Linked DNA regions of Homo sapiens. The protein of the gene in region 4 purifies or fractionates together with the protein of the main gene of each other region. This does not show direct contact. Each region holds a gene or a part of one and is shown on either strand. Other genes may lie near its edges.

Region 1 (3,500 bases), about 55 Mb from region 4:
TTTTTCTTAGCAAACCACAGAAATTTCACTCACTATAGTAGGAAACACAACTGTACAACTTTTTTTTTTTTTTTTTATTTGAGACTGAGTCTCGCTCTGTTGCCCAGGCTGGAGTGCAGTGGCACGATCTCAGCTAGCTGCAACCTCTCCCTCCTGGGCTCAAGCGATTCTCGTGCCTCAGCATCCCGAGTAGCTGGGATTACAGATGTGCCACCATGCCCTGCTAATTTTTTTTTTTTTTTGTATTTATAGTAGAGACAAGGTTTCACCATGTTGGCCAGGCTGGTCTCAAACTCCTTACCTCAGGTGATCCGCCCACCTTGGCCTCCTAAAGTGCTGGAATTATGGGCATAAGCCACCGCGCCCGGCCCATTTTTAAAAATGTGTTCAGTAAATGTTATTATCTGAAAAAGATAAAGGATATCCACACAAACTATTCTTAAAGAGGGGTGTTCTAGAACTTTGTATTATTTATGTCTGAAGATTTGTACAGATCCTCAATTCCATATCTGCAATTCCTAAATCAAAAAAGCTCTGAAAAGCAAAAGACTGTATGCAACTTTTCTGGCAGTAAAGTCTGACCTGCACTGACATAAGGCTATTTATAGTCTTTATACCACTTGGTATGATTTTGTTTTTTTTTTGAGATAGTCTCACTCTGTCACCCAGGCTGCAGTGCAACGGTGGAATCACAGCTCACTGCAATCTCCCCCTCCCTGGTTCAAGCGATTCTCCTGCCTCAGCCTCCCAAGTAGCTGGGATTACAGGTGCATGCCACCACACCCGGCTAATTTCTTTGTACTTTAGTAGAAACGGGGTTTCACCATGTTGGCCAGGCTGGTCTTGAACTCCTGACCTCAAGTGATCCACCTGCCTCGGCCTCCCAAAGTGCTGGGATTACAGGCGTGAGCCACCACGCCCGGCCTATTCACTTGTTTAACTGCAGAAATATTAACATAACTGTCTAGTCCAAATGGTTTTGGAAAAGAGATTGTGGATGTATAATTCTATTCCTTAAAAATATTTTCACTGTTTGAAAATCAAATAGCAGTGAACCAACATGATAGAGGGTAGAACAATACTAAGATGTTATAAATGAAACTATCACCTACATTAATAGAGCACACAATTTAAATAAGACATACAAATTTTCTCTCAAAAGAAGAAAAAAGGGGGCTATTTAAAGTCACTTAAACAGTACATGCCTAGGCATTCTTAGAAGTTCTCTCTGATTTCAATGAAAAACTGTCTATTCTTAATGTGTTTTAATGTATTTGGAAATCATTGGAAACTAATACATCAACAAGCCTATGCCACATCCTAAGTATTGAACTCAAGCTTAAGATTCCAAAAATTTCTAAAATATGACTACTCAGGTGTAAAGATTCAATTAACAGTACCTGAGGAAATTAAGACATTTAAGGAACATGAACATGTTTGGGGATGTATTTTATACACACTCACTGATTTTCTTCTAGCCATACTAGTTGCAACATTTTAAATAAATTTAGAGACATAACCTCTAGAAACGTAACTTTTAAAAATCTCATCCTGTGTCTTAATTGGTGAGGCGTAAGCAGTATCATATAATACAACCAGATATGACTTCTGTCTCATCAGCTCATATTCACTTCTTGAATATGAACTTCTATTAATTCTTACCGAATTCCCACTGCCACATTTCTGGAATTATAAGGTACTTAATGAAGTATGATTAATTCCCTTTTTCTTCTGTTTGCTTAAATAGTACTAGCCCTTTGAAATTTTCCAGCAGGTCCCTATGTTGTTATCAATAAACAATGAGCTGTATACAAGCTTAATGGTAATAATGTTGATGCTATTCATTTTCTTAACAGAATATTTTACCTAATTCCTTCTGATAATATTAAAATTTAAAAGTACAAGATTTCTTGTTGATCCCTTTCTTGTGCTGATTATATTTCCCTTCTAACTCTCCAAGAGCATATCTGAGCACATACTTGCAGACCTGTCATACTGATGAGTGCAGAGCTCCACCGCAGGCAATCCTAGAGATTGGGATCTTAAATTTCTCCCAGAGTGTCCTACACTCCCCATCCATTCATGGTAAAGTATTTAATTTTAATGTTCTCATTGTTTACCAGAAAGCACAGACAGTGAGGCTGGCTTTGCCACTCCCGTTTCCTTTCGCTATGCTGCTGAGCTTTTTCAGCCAATTGACTTTGCTTTGAGGCTATAAATATCTGAAAAATGTTCTGCATTTGATGCTCTTGGATTCTGTATCCATATTTAGCTGTTTGTGGCATGCCTTTGTTTAAGCTACTCTACCACCCATACAGTCAGTCAGGTTGAGATCTGGATGGTCAAAGGACAAACGGATCAACATACAACAGACACTGACTTACTATGAGCAAGGTACCAATCTGGCAGACAAGTTGACAATGAAGGGGGTGGCAAGATAAGAATACAAAGATAAACAAGGCTCCCTGATATCAAAAATTTTATAGTCTTGACAAGGCATGGGCACAACTTATAATACTGGAATAAAACAAATGAAACATTTTACAACTACAAGGAAATGAAGATTAGGACAGACAGCACAAATATTTTTCTCTCAGCCACATCTCAAAAATGTGCATTAGTTTGTGTTCTAAATATAGAGCCACCTATTATAAAGCTCTGAACATATTCCAGAAAAGTTTTCCAAATCATGGCAATACACAAAACCCTGAGTATACGTATTATGACAATATATACATATGTACACAATATATATGTATTATCAACCAAGGAGCCAAACCTGTCAACAAGAAACTCAAAACAGTGCCTAGTCTTCAAATTTTGTGAGGCAAACTAATAAAATATTGTTTCTAGAAGTTCCTGTTAAGATATTCTTTGGGGGGTTACTTCTGTTGTTGTTTGTTCCCATCATGATTTCAAACAGAAGTATATTGCAGGAGATGCAAATTGCACTTAATAAAGTTCCTTATTATTATCCTACCTTTAGAACCCACATGGCTATGTAGGTTAGGTCTCAAAACTGGATGAACTAGACCTAAGCAACATCGCCATACTCATCTTCCTATCTTGTGAAAACATTCCAAATAAATAAACATCTGCCTTCAATATATCTTCTTTGAAAACTCAGTTCACTGACCTTTTGATAAAACTGCTCCCCAGAATTCCCTGACAATCATGATTTAAATGCATTAAGTTAAGGGCTTGGTTAATGCCTGGCCCCAAGAGCCAGGATAAAGATTATAGGCCAACCTGCAGGTAAAATAATGGGCCAAGCCACAGAATCAGACAACTTTAAAGCTAAAAGGGACCACAGATACCAATTACTCCAGATTCCACTTTTATGCTGAAACCTAGAGGCCATGAGTTAAAACTACCTGCCCAGAATTAGACAACCAACTTGTGGCAAAGCCAGAATGAAACCAATACTCTAAGCTTCTAGTTGTATCCTCTAGACTAGGTTCCCAATTTGTAGATTTCCCTGAAACATGTTAGACTACACT
Region 2 (3,500 bases), on a different chromosome or scaffold from region 4:
CCAGGAGGAGGGGGCGTTAGGAGGGGGCCGGCCCCGGAGGAGGGGGCATTTAAGAGGACACCCAGGGCCAGGATGAGGGGCTGTTAGGTGGGCACTGGCCCAGATTGGCCCTGCCTCTAAGCACACGGAGGCCTGTTCCTGGGACAGAGCCGCAGGAAGGACAGGGCGGATGCCTGAGTGCTTAAGGCCTTCGTCCCTCCAGCTGGCCACACCCAGCCCCCCAGCTGGGCCTCTCTTCACTTTCCAGAGCCTCTCCCCTTCCTGCCTTCTCCTGCTCCAGGATGAGTCCAACCGATCCCGGGGAACACAGCCCTGAAGGTCCCAGAACAAAGCCCCAAGTGGAACCCCACGATGACAGGGACCCTCTTAGCTCATGGGACGACGGCACGACCCCCAGGCCCAAGGGGGAAGGTGAGCGGGAGAACACTGACTTGTCTCGCCCCGGCCTCACTTTCACCCGGAAGAGGCCATACACAGGGCGGTGGTCGGACGTCTTGATCCCGGGGCAGGAAGAGTAGCTCACAGGACAGATGTCACCCTTGTGGCGGCTTCTGTACAAGACGCGGTCCTTTGGGAAGATTGCAGAGGCAGGAGGTCCAGTTACTTGTGAGGAGCCGTGGGGCGTGGCCCGCTCACCTCCCTGCTGTTCTCAAGCGCCCCCCACAAGGAAGCCTTCTGGGACCCCTGACACTCATGCCCATTTTGTTGCCTGGCGTCTGTGGCCAGCTGGGCCAGGGCCTGTCCCTCGCCGCTGGAGAGACCCTGTGGACAGCGGCTGCTCCTACCCTGCCCTGCCTCAGTGGCTTCTTGAGGCTTCCAGCAGATATCCAGATATCGGGACATGCCCAGAGATGCAGCCATGGGCCTGGCAGGAGGGTGAGCGAGGGTGCAACGGGCAGAGGGCAGAGGCTCTGCAGGCCGGAGGCGAGGGCATGGCTGGTGCCCTGTGTGCCAGCCGGCTCACCCAGCCTTGAAAACACCCATGGAGAGGGCGCCGTTCTCCACCAAAGGGGACTTGCCACAAGGCCAAGGTGCAGAGCTGAGTTTCAAGTCCAGGCCGTCCAGGCTCAGACCCCTGACGCCAGGCATCGGTTCCCGGCTGTGGGAGATGCCTGCCCTGGAAGCACTCTGCACCGCAGCGGTGGGCAGGCCTCACCGTGTATGAGGGCGTCCTCTGCTTGGAGGTGCTGTCGTACGTGTCCTTCCCGATGTCAAACTTGTATGATGGGAGGAAGTGGATGTCCGGCTCCTGGAAGCCCTTGAAGATGGACCCTGCCACAGGATGGGCACTCGGACTGGCTCAGACCAGCTTGTGCCAGCCGCCGCACCCCAGGCCCTCACCTCTCCTCATCTCCCACCACGCCCACCCTCCCCCCACCCGCCGCAGGCCCTCACCTTTCCTCATCTCCCGCCACGCCCGCCCCCCCAGGCCCTCACCTCTCCTCATCTCCCTCCACGCCCGCCCCCCAGGCCCTCACCTCTCCTCATCTCCCTCCACGCCCGCCCCCCAGGCCCTCACCTCTCCTCATCTCCCTCCACGCCCGCCCCCCCAGGCCCTCACCTCTCCTCATCTCCCTCCACGCCCGCCCCCCCAGGCCCTCACCTCTCCTCATCTCCCTCCACGCCCGCCCCCCAGGCCCTCACCTTTCCTCATCTCCCTCCACGCCCGCCCCCCCAGGCCCTCACCTTTCCTCATCTCCCGCCACGCCCGCCCCCCCAGGCCCTCACCTTTCCTCATCTCCCTCCACGCCCGCCCCCCCAGGCCCTCACCTCTCCTCATCTCCCTCCACGCCCGCCCCCCCAGGCCCTCACCTCTCCTCATCTCCCTCCACGCCCGCCCCCCAGGCCCTCACCTTTCCTCATCTCCCTCCACGCCCGCCCCCCAGGCCCTCACCTCTCCTCATCTCCCTCCACGCCCGCCCCCCCAGGCCCTCACCTCTCCTCATCTCCCTCCATGCCCGCCCCCCCAGGCCCTCACCTTTCCGCATCTCCCGGATGAGCTGGTCGTGCTGCAGCAGCGCCGGCACGTCCACCACCAGGCCCTGGCACAGGAGGGCGTCCACGACTGTGCGCCCGCCACTCAGGCGGAAGTTGAAGTCTCCAAACCAGAACACCTCATCGAAGCGGGTGGTGACGTCCGCTGCGGCACAGTGGGCCATGTGTGGGCACAGGCAGAGGGACGGCAGGTCCTTCCCCTTCCCCAGAACATGGCCTGGGAGTGGCTCTCAGGGGAAGTGGGTCTTGGGCGCCAGCCGGTGGGGCCGGGCCCTCAGGGGTGGGATTCGCACTGGGACAGTTCCAGAAGGCACCTGGAGCAGCCTCAGGAGCAGACGATGCCCATGGCAGGCGATGGCCACGTCCCTGCTCCTCTCCACACAGCCAGGGGAGGCGGCGGGGCGGGCAGTGGCGAGGACCAGGACCCAGGCTAGTGGGCCACGCCGAGTGGACAGGATCCGCCCACCCCACTAACCGTGCTAAAGAACCGCGAGGGGCCATGCGCTGGGGGCACTGGACGTTTCGGCCCTCGCTTCCCAAAGCTCAGGACGCTGCCTCTTCAGAACTGCCCTAAAAACGACGGGCGCCCGTGTGCGAACCACGGCGGCACCACCCACACGCAGCGTGGACGCCCTCACCTGCGCTGGAGCGATAGGGGTTGGTGTCGGGCACATTTCTGGGCAGGACCAGGGCTTGTACAGTCCTGGTGTAGTCCAGCAGCCGCTCCGCCACCTTCCCGTCACCTGCTGTGGGAACAGAAATGGGGTAGGGACCACAGGGTTCCGGATGCTCGAGTCTCCCTAAAGCGCCGCACCTCTGGACTGTGCCCTGACTGCGCACCCCCGGCAGACGCAACCCCACCGGGCATCCGCTGCCGGGCCCAGCCAGTGACATTTCCGCCTCGGAGGACAGAGCACGGGCCCAGCACGGCACGCCCTCGGTGCCGGGGTCTGCCGGGGGTCCTTGGCGTGCATCTTAGCAAGCGTGGTGCCCACCCCACGGCCCTGGGTGGAAGATGAAGCCAGCGGTCAGGACCCCTGCCTTGGACAGGGTCCCGGTCAGGAGAGGAAGCTGTTCTCACACAGCACCTGCGGTGCGGGCACCAAGCAACTTACAGGTGAAGTGGGACGTGATGAAGAGGAAGGAAGTGCCAAAAAAGGTGAAGCTGATGCCCAAGGCCCCCTTGGTCTTGATCTGAGACACGATGCGTGTGGTCACCGTGGAGCACTCCACCTCTGTGGGAGGGGCAGCCCTCAGCTCACCTGTGGGACGCTGCCACCTTCCAGCCGCGCCCACCCCTCCAGCCGCGCCCACCTGAGCAGAACCAGATGAGGTCCCTGCGGATGAAGAGCGACATGTAGAGCACGCCGTGGGCCGCCGAGGACAGCAGCACATAGTGCGGGCCCAGCGTCTCCTGCAGACGAGTCTCCCACTCCCGCCTGCAGAGGAGGAAGCACGGCCGGCTGGGGGACATGGCCTCCCAGCTCCGCCACCCCCAGACCTGC
Region 3 (2,626 bases), on a different chromosome or scaffold from region 4:
AAGAAATACTGCCCTTAAATAGACTGTTGAAATATTAATGGCCCCCCCATTTAATCAGTGTGTCTGCGGCTTTCTTCGCGTCACATGTCCGCATTGGCAGGTGATTCTGGAAAGGGATTCTGGGAAACCAACAAGTCTTTTTTAAATCTTTGAGTTGTATGAGAAAGTATTTAAGTTCACCAGTGTAGTAAACACCCACCCCAGAGCAGCGGTAAGCAAACCTAAATCTGAAAACCCATTCTTACTGTCTTTCACCATGAGATGCTGGTTTTGGTGTAAAATGACAGCACTTGGTTTGGGGTTTTGCACCTGTTGGGTAGAACTGTTCTTGTCTGAGGTCCTCACCCTCTACAGATGGGCCTCAGGGCCTGGAGGTGGGCAGATGGGGCCAGAGTGGCCAGCAGAGACTTGCATGGGCTCTGAAAGCCCCAGAGCTCAGGCCTAAGGCTGCTAGGTGAGACCAGCAGGCAGCTGTGGCATCCGACCTTGGGACGCCCAAGCTGGGCAGCCGCTCCATGTGCCCCAAACAGGATATCCTCATGAATGTGAGGAGAGGCTGGCTCAGGGCTTGGTTTTCATTTTGGCCTGGCACAGGGTACCTGTAGGGAGCACTCCCCCAACCTGAGGATGGTGAAACCATATGATAGAGACTCCTTGTCGAAGTCCACATCGGACTGATCTAGAATGCCCCGTGGGGGGATTGCATGGCCTTTGCCTTGAGATGCAGGTGAAAGAAAGGAACCAAACAAGGCATGAGTGTGTTGGGGAATCTTCCCAGTGGAGCAAACCCCCTTAACACACCAGCTGTTGGGAACAGCTGCCCCTAAATCCAATTAAACCCTCATCTCCCTGGTGCTGAACAGTCTACACTGGCCCAGGAAGCTAACGTCTGAGCCGCTTGGAGAGCTTTGGTAAACAGAAGACACTGGAAGCCCACTCGGTCAGCAGCTGGGCATGAGGATGTCAGGGGCCTTTGGACTTGAGGAAGGACAGTCCAGGTGCATGGAATCCTAATGGGCCTCATGCAGACACTGGAAGCAGCCCAGCCCCCTGCCCAATACCACAGCCCTGGGGTGTCCCCTGACATTCCTGGAGGTCCCTGGGCAAATGCATTTCCTGCCTGGGTTCTCAGGGTAGGAGAACAGAGAAGGCTCCAAGGGTGTTGGGAGTGAGCCAGGGGCTGGTCTGGGGAGTGGGTCTCACGCACTGCTCAGGTTGGCACGAGGGACCTCCCCCATCCCAACCCAGCCCCAAGGGTCCCAGCAGGGCTCTCAGCATGGCTGTTTTGAGGGTACACAGGTGGCTGGAGAGGGGTGGGGCAGTTGCATGGTGGGTGGCAAAGTGTGCATTTAGAAGCTGCTTCGTGGCGTTAAGAACGGGGGGAGAGGGACCAGCACTGTAACGTTAGAAATAATTCCTTCTTGCAGACTTGAAAAGCATCAGTTTCCCTCCCACGGCTGGGTTTTTGTGTCTGAAATACATCTAATTCTCCAGACTGCAGCCCCTCTCAGCCCCGAGCACCTGAGCGCTGGGGAGGCCCTTATTGAGCTCAGCCTGGAGAGGGGAGGGTCGCACGGGTCCCGGGGGCAGGTCTCCTGCACTGGCTCTTCCCTTCTGCCAGCTTGGAATTTGGTTCTCATCTTGCCACAGGGGTGCGTTTCCTAAAGGGCAGCCGGAGCAGCTCAAAGGTGACAACTGAGATGCATTTCTAGGCAGGGGCAGGGAAGGCCAACCCACCTTGCAGCCAGTTTTCTGTTTCTGTAAATAGCAGTGTATAGAGATGGAAGGGCAGCGTGGGTGTATCCACAGATGGGTTTAGGTTTTTTTTTTGGATGTTTTCTATTACCTCATTCAGCAACTTTATGTTTCACAATGACTCAATGATGCTTTATTTATATTGTTTGTACTGTAATTAAAACCATTGACAGACATTTCACTTTGCTTGTTATTTCATATGATCTTGTTTTGATTAAATATGCCAGTTTGTATTTTCCTGCCTTGGGATTTTTTTGTGTCCGCTGTACAGTATTCTAAGGGAAAAAGAAAAAGAAAGATGTGTAAAGTAACAGAGAGAGGTGGCTATGGTGTAGAGACCTCTTTCTAATAAAGAAATGAAAATATGTCTACACCGCTTCCGTGGAGTTGTTGTTTTTTGTTTTTTGTTTTTTTTTTTTTTGGTGGCGTTGGTCATTTGTCACAACTAATTGTGTTTCTAAGCCCAGGAAAGGTAAATCAGAGAGAAAAGGGGCTCTGTCTGCTGCGGGCAGGGATTGCCCCAGGCCCAGGCTGCCCCAGGCCCGAGGGACTCAGCACACGAGTTCACAGACGGAATGAAGAAAGAGACCAGGAGTGTCTCTTCTGACTTCTTCCTTTACAAGGACAGAAACTCCAAGAGAATGTTCTTTGCCCAGCCAGGGTTGACTGGGCCCAGAACTTCCAGATGCTTCTGTATCTTTGCACTGTGCCACACTGCCCCAGGTGTGTCGTAAGAACTATTCCCAGCAGGTGGCTAGCAGTAGAACCATCCCAGGACTCTATTATTAAGACCGTTATTATCATTAATATTACTGTAATTTTTGCCTACAAACTACATTATATCTTCCCCTCCAAAAAAAAAAAATGAGAA
Region 4 (3,500 bases):
CTATTATTTAGTTAAGCAGTTAGAATATTTCTGAGATTTTTCCTGTCTCACTTTCAGGTATTATTTGTACTTTGTCAGCCCTTCAAAACTGAGTACAAATGTGTTCTCTTTACTACCTTAAAAATATTGTTGGTCTGTATCCACCAAAACCTAATTGGTGTGTTGTGTGCTTCTATCTTATGAAAAGAAACATTTTTCTCTTGTAGGATAAGACCTCTCTCCGATGGCAACAGTCCTTGGTCAACTATCTTAATAAAAAATCAGAAAACCATGCCCTTGGCTTCATTGTTTGTGGACCAGCCAGGTAAATGTGTTTCAGGAGGTAGGATTTGCTTGAGCAGTCCTTGGCATCTGATTGTGCTGAAGCTTTGCTTTTACAGTCTTACGTGGTCATTAAAGTAGCAGAGGGGAGATTAGCAAGTAATGGCATTTCTTATAGCTTTACTTAAATTCAGAAGTTATTTTCCGTCAAGTATTTATGGCAGGAAGTAATTAGGCTTCACGTGGTTTTGGGAATTTGTAACTCTTCTTCCTTACCAGAAACATTATTATCACAATTAATTATGTAAAACCAAATCAATTTAGTATGGGAAATATTAGATGTAAAAATATAGACCCCCCTGAAAGTTCTGCTGAGATTAAGGGGTATGGCTTCTTGCTATAGTGCCACCTGTTGACATGAGGAAATCCAATGAAACAGGTTAACTATGAAAAACACAAAAACTAGCCGGCATGGTGGTGCTTGCTTGTAATCCCAGCTACTCAGGAGGCTGAGGCAAGAGAATCACTTGCACCTGGGAGCCAGAGGTGGCAGTGAGCCAAGATTGTGCCACTGCATGCCAGCCTGGACAATAGAGTGAATGAGACTCTATCTCTAGATAAATAAATAAATAAATAAATAAGAAAAATGACTCCTTGGAGAGTTTTACACTGGAATTTCTATTTAATTTAAATGAATCATAATGATTTACTTTCAATATTCTATATTTGTATTCAGTATTCAGTATTAAAAGATTGAAGAGATGGAAATCGTTGAAAAACTTCAAGCACGGTTACTAACACAGAAAATAAAATTGGTCTTTATACTTGACCATTTAGGCAGACTCTTTGGTACTTTGATCAAATTAAAGATGCCTTAGCAAGACACAATGTAAATGTATTGAATTTGTTATTGGTACTGTGCTCAATTTCACAAGCACCTTTGCACTCACTACCTGGGTTCAGCTTCTCCTTCTGAAGGTTCTCCTTTATGAAGGAAAAGGGAGCTTGGGTCAGCAACGTCAGGGAGTGGAAGGAAAAAGAGGGTACCCCAAACAAAAGGCACCACAGGGAAGAGCACAGGGTTCTTTGGAGAAAGAAAGCTGGCACCCCAAATTGTCTACATCAGCAGTCCCCAACCTTTATGGCACCAGAGACCAGTTTCATGGAAGACAGTTTTTCCATGGACCAGTGGGGTAGGGATGGTTTCAGGATGATCCAAGCGCATTACATTTGTTGTGCACTTTATTATTATTACATTGTAATTCATAATGAAATAATTCTACAACTCACCATAATGTAGAATCAGTGGGAGCCCTGAGCTTGTTTTCCTACAACTAGATGGTCCCATCTGGGAGTGATGGGAGACAGCAACAGATCATCAGATCCTAGATTCTCATAAGGAGCAACCTAGATCCCTTGTATGTGCAGTTCACAATGGGGTTCATGCTCCTATGAGAATCTAATGCTTCTGCTGAACTGACACAGGGCGGAGCTCAGGTGGTAATGTGAGCAATGGGCACTGGCTGTAAATGCAAAAGAAGCTTCACTCGCCCACCTGCTGCTCACTTCCTGCTGTGCAGCCTGGTTCCTAACAGGCCACGGTATCAGTCCATGGCCTGGGGTTCAGGGACCCCTGGTCTAGATCATCAAGCATGTTTAGGTATACTAGGATGTAGTGTTGGAAAAAATTAGAGATGTTATTTGGAAATCAGATTAATGAGTTTGTTGTTTAATTATGCGCTGTCACTTTTGTGATAAGAATGTTAGCTTCCTCTTAAGCGGGTATAATTTGTAACCTTTGGGATTCTGTAACCTCTTGGGAGAATCTTCTATTTTAATGGTCCCCAAACTTCAGTAAAGGCTAGCTGAAACACAGACTGCTGGACTCCACTCTTCAGAATTTCTGATTCCATAGTCTGGGGTGGGCCAATAATTTACATTTCTACAAATTCCCAGGGGATGCAGATGCTGCCAGTCCAGGCCACACACTTTGAGAACTGCTGATCTGCTACAGAACAGTTAGTTTATACACAGGAAAGCTGTAGATAATGGAGCCTGATGCATGTATTTAGGTGAAGTGAGGAAAAGAGCACATTTGGTGACATATTTAGTGATTTTGTGCCTATGGTTGTGCGTTTTTGTGTTTTGATGACTGTTTCTACAATAGTGTCTATTATTGAAGCTGATGAAGAACAGCTTCCCGAAGCATAGGAAACAGCAGATGGCTAGCTTGCTGGTTCATCTGCAGGGAACCTGAAGTTGTAGGGCCCTAGACTCTTGCTCCATGGAGCCCTCCTGGATGAATCATTTGCAGAAATGAAAAGGGCTGCATGTGTTTTGATTTAAAATATGTATTTATTATATTTTAGCTTTATTTTACAATCTTGTTTAAATGACTTTTGCTGTAAAATGATACTACAGTGTATGTACTTATACCTTTATTTAGGGTCCTGTGAAGAGCCAAAACTTTCCCCTGATGGATTAGAACACAGAAAACCAAAACAAATAAAATTGCCTAGTCAGGCCTACATTGATCTACCTCTTGGGAAAGATGCTCAGAGAGAGAATCCTGCAGAAGCTGAAAGCTGGGAGGAGGCAGCCTCTGCGAATGCTGCCACAGTCTCCATTGAGATGACTCCTACGAATAGTCTGAGTAGATCCCCCCAGAGAAAGAAAACGGAGTCAGCTCTGTATGGGTGCACCGTCCTTCTGGCATCGGTGGCTCTGGGACTGGACCTCAGAGAGCTTCATAAAGCACAGGCTGCTGAAGAACCGTTGCCCAAGGAAGAGAAGAAGAAACGAGAGGGAATCTTCCAGCGGGCTTCCAAGTCCCGCAGAAGCGCCAGTCCTCCCACAAGCCTGCCATCCACCTGTGGGGAGGCCAGCAGCCCACCCTCCCTGCCACTGTCAAGTGCCCTGGGCATCCTCTCCACACCTTCTTTCTCCACAAAGTGCCTGCTGCAGATGGACAGTGAAGATCCACTGGTGGACAGTGCACCTGTCACTTGTGACTCTGAGATGCTCACTCCGGATTTTTGTCCCACTGCCCCAGGAAGTGGTCGTGAGCCAGCCCTCATGCCAAGACTTGACACTGATTGTAGTGTATCAAGAAACTTGCCGTCTTCCTTCCTACAGCAGACATGTGGGAATGTACCTTACTGTGCTTCTTCAAAACATAGACCGTCACATCACAGACGGACCATGTCTGATGGAAATCCGACCCCAAGTAGGTTGCATTA

The links. The genes of interacting proteins can lie anywhere in the genome.
Region 1: the proteins of MAP3K21 (region 4) and RASAL2 purify together in Homo sapiens (affinity purification with mass spectrometry, with the first as the bait; one large-scale study listed by BioGRID). This does not show direct contact.
Region 2: the proteins of MAP3K21 (region 4) and INPP5E purify together in Homo sapiens (affinity purification with mass spectrometry, with the first as the bait; one large-scale study listed by BioGRID). This does not show direct contact.
Region 3: the proteins of MAP3K21 (region 4) and AGAP1 purify together in Homo sapiens (affinity purification with mass spectrometry, with the first as the bait; one large-scale study listed by BioGRID). This does not show direct contact.

What each region holds. Positions count from the first base shown.
Region 1 is NC_000001.11:178,097,104-178,100,603, reverse strand, and holds part of RASAL2 (ras GTPase-activating protein nGAP), read right to left. Parts: intron 1-3,500. UniProt on the Homo sapiens protein: Inhibitory regulator of the Ras-cyclic AMP pathway.
Region 2 is NC_000009.12:136,429,846-136,433,345, forward strand, and holds part of INPP5E (phosphatidylinositol polyphosphate 5-phosphatase type IV), read right to left. Parts: intron 3,435-3,500; coding exon 3,310-3,434; intron 3,231-3,309; coding exon 3,111-3,230; intron 2,742-3,110; coding exon 2,634-2,741; exon of another isoform or gene 2,471-2,633; intron 2,141-2,470; coding exon 1,979-2,140; intron 1,273-1,978; coding exon 1,157-1,272; intron 569-1,156; coding exon 432-568; intron 1-431. UniProt on the Homo sapiens protein: Phosphatidylinositol (PtdIns) phosphatase that specifically hydrolyzes the 5-phosphate of phosphatidylinositol-3,4,5-trisphosphate (PtdIns(3,4,5)P3), phosphatidylinositol 4,5-bisphosphate (PtdIns(4,5)P2) and phosphatidylinositol 3,5-bisphosphate (PtdIns(3,5)P2).
Region 3 is NC_000002.12:236,129,668-236,132,293, forward strand, and holds the end of AGAP1 (arf-GAP with GTPase, ANK repeat and PH domain-containing protein 1), read left to right. Parts: 3' UTR 1-2,126; downstream 2,127-2,626. UniProt on the Homo sapiens protein: GTPase-activating protein for ARF1 and, to a lesser extent, ARF5. Directly and specifically regulates the adapter protein 3 (AP-3)-dependent trafficking of proteins in the endosomal-lysosomal system.
Region 4 is NC_000001.11:233,376,224-233,379,723, forward strand, and holds part of MAP3K21 (mitogen-activated protein kinase kinase kinase 21), read left to right. Parts: intron 1-206; coding exon 207-304; intron 305-2,707; coding exon 2,708-3,487; intron 3,488-3,500. UniProt on the Homo sapiens protein: Negative regulator of TLR4 signaling. Does not activate JNK1/MAPK8 pathway, p38/MAPK14, nor ERK2/MAPK1 pathways.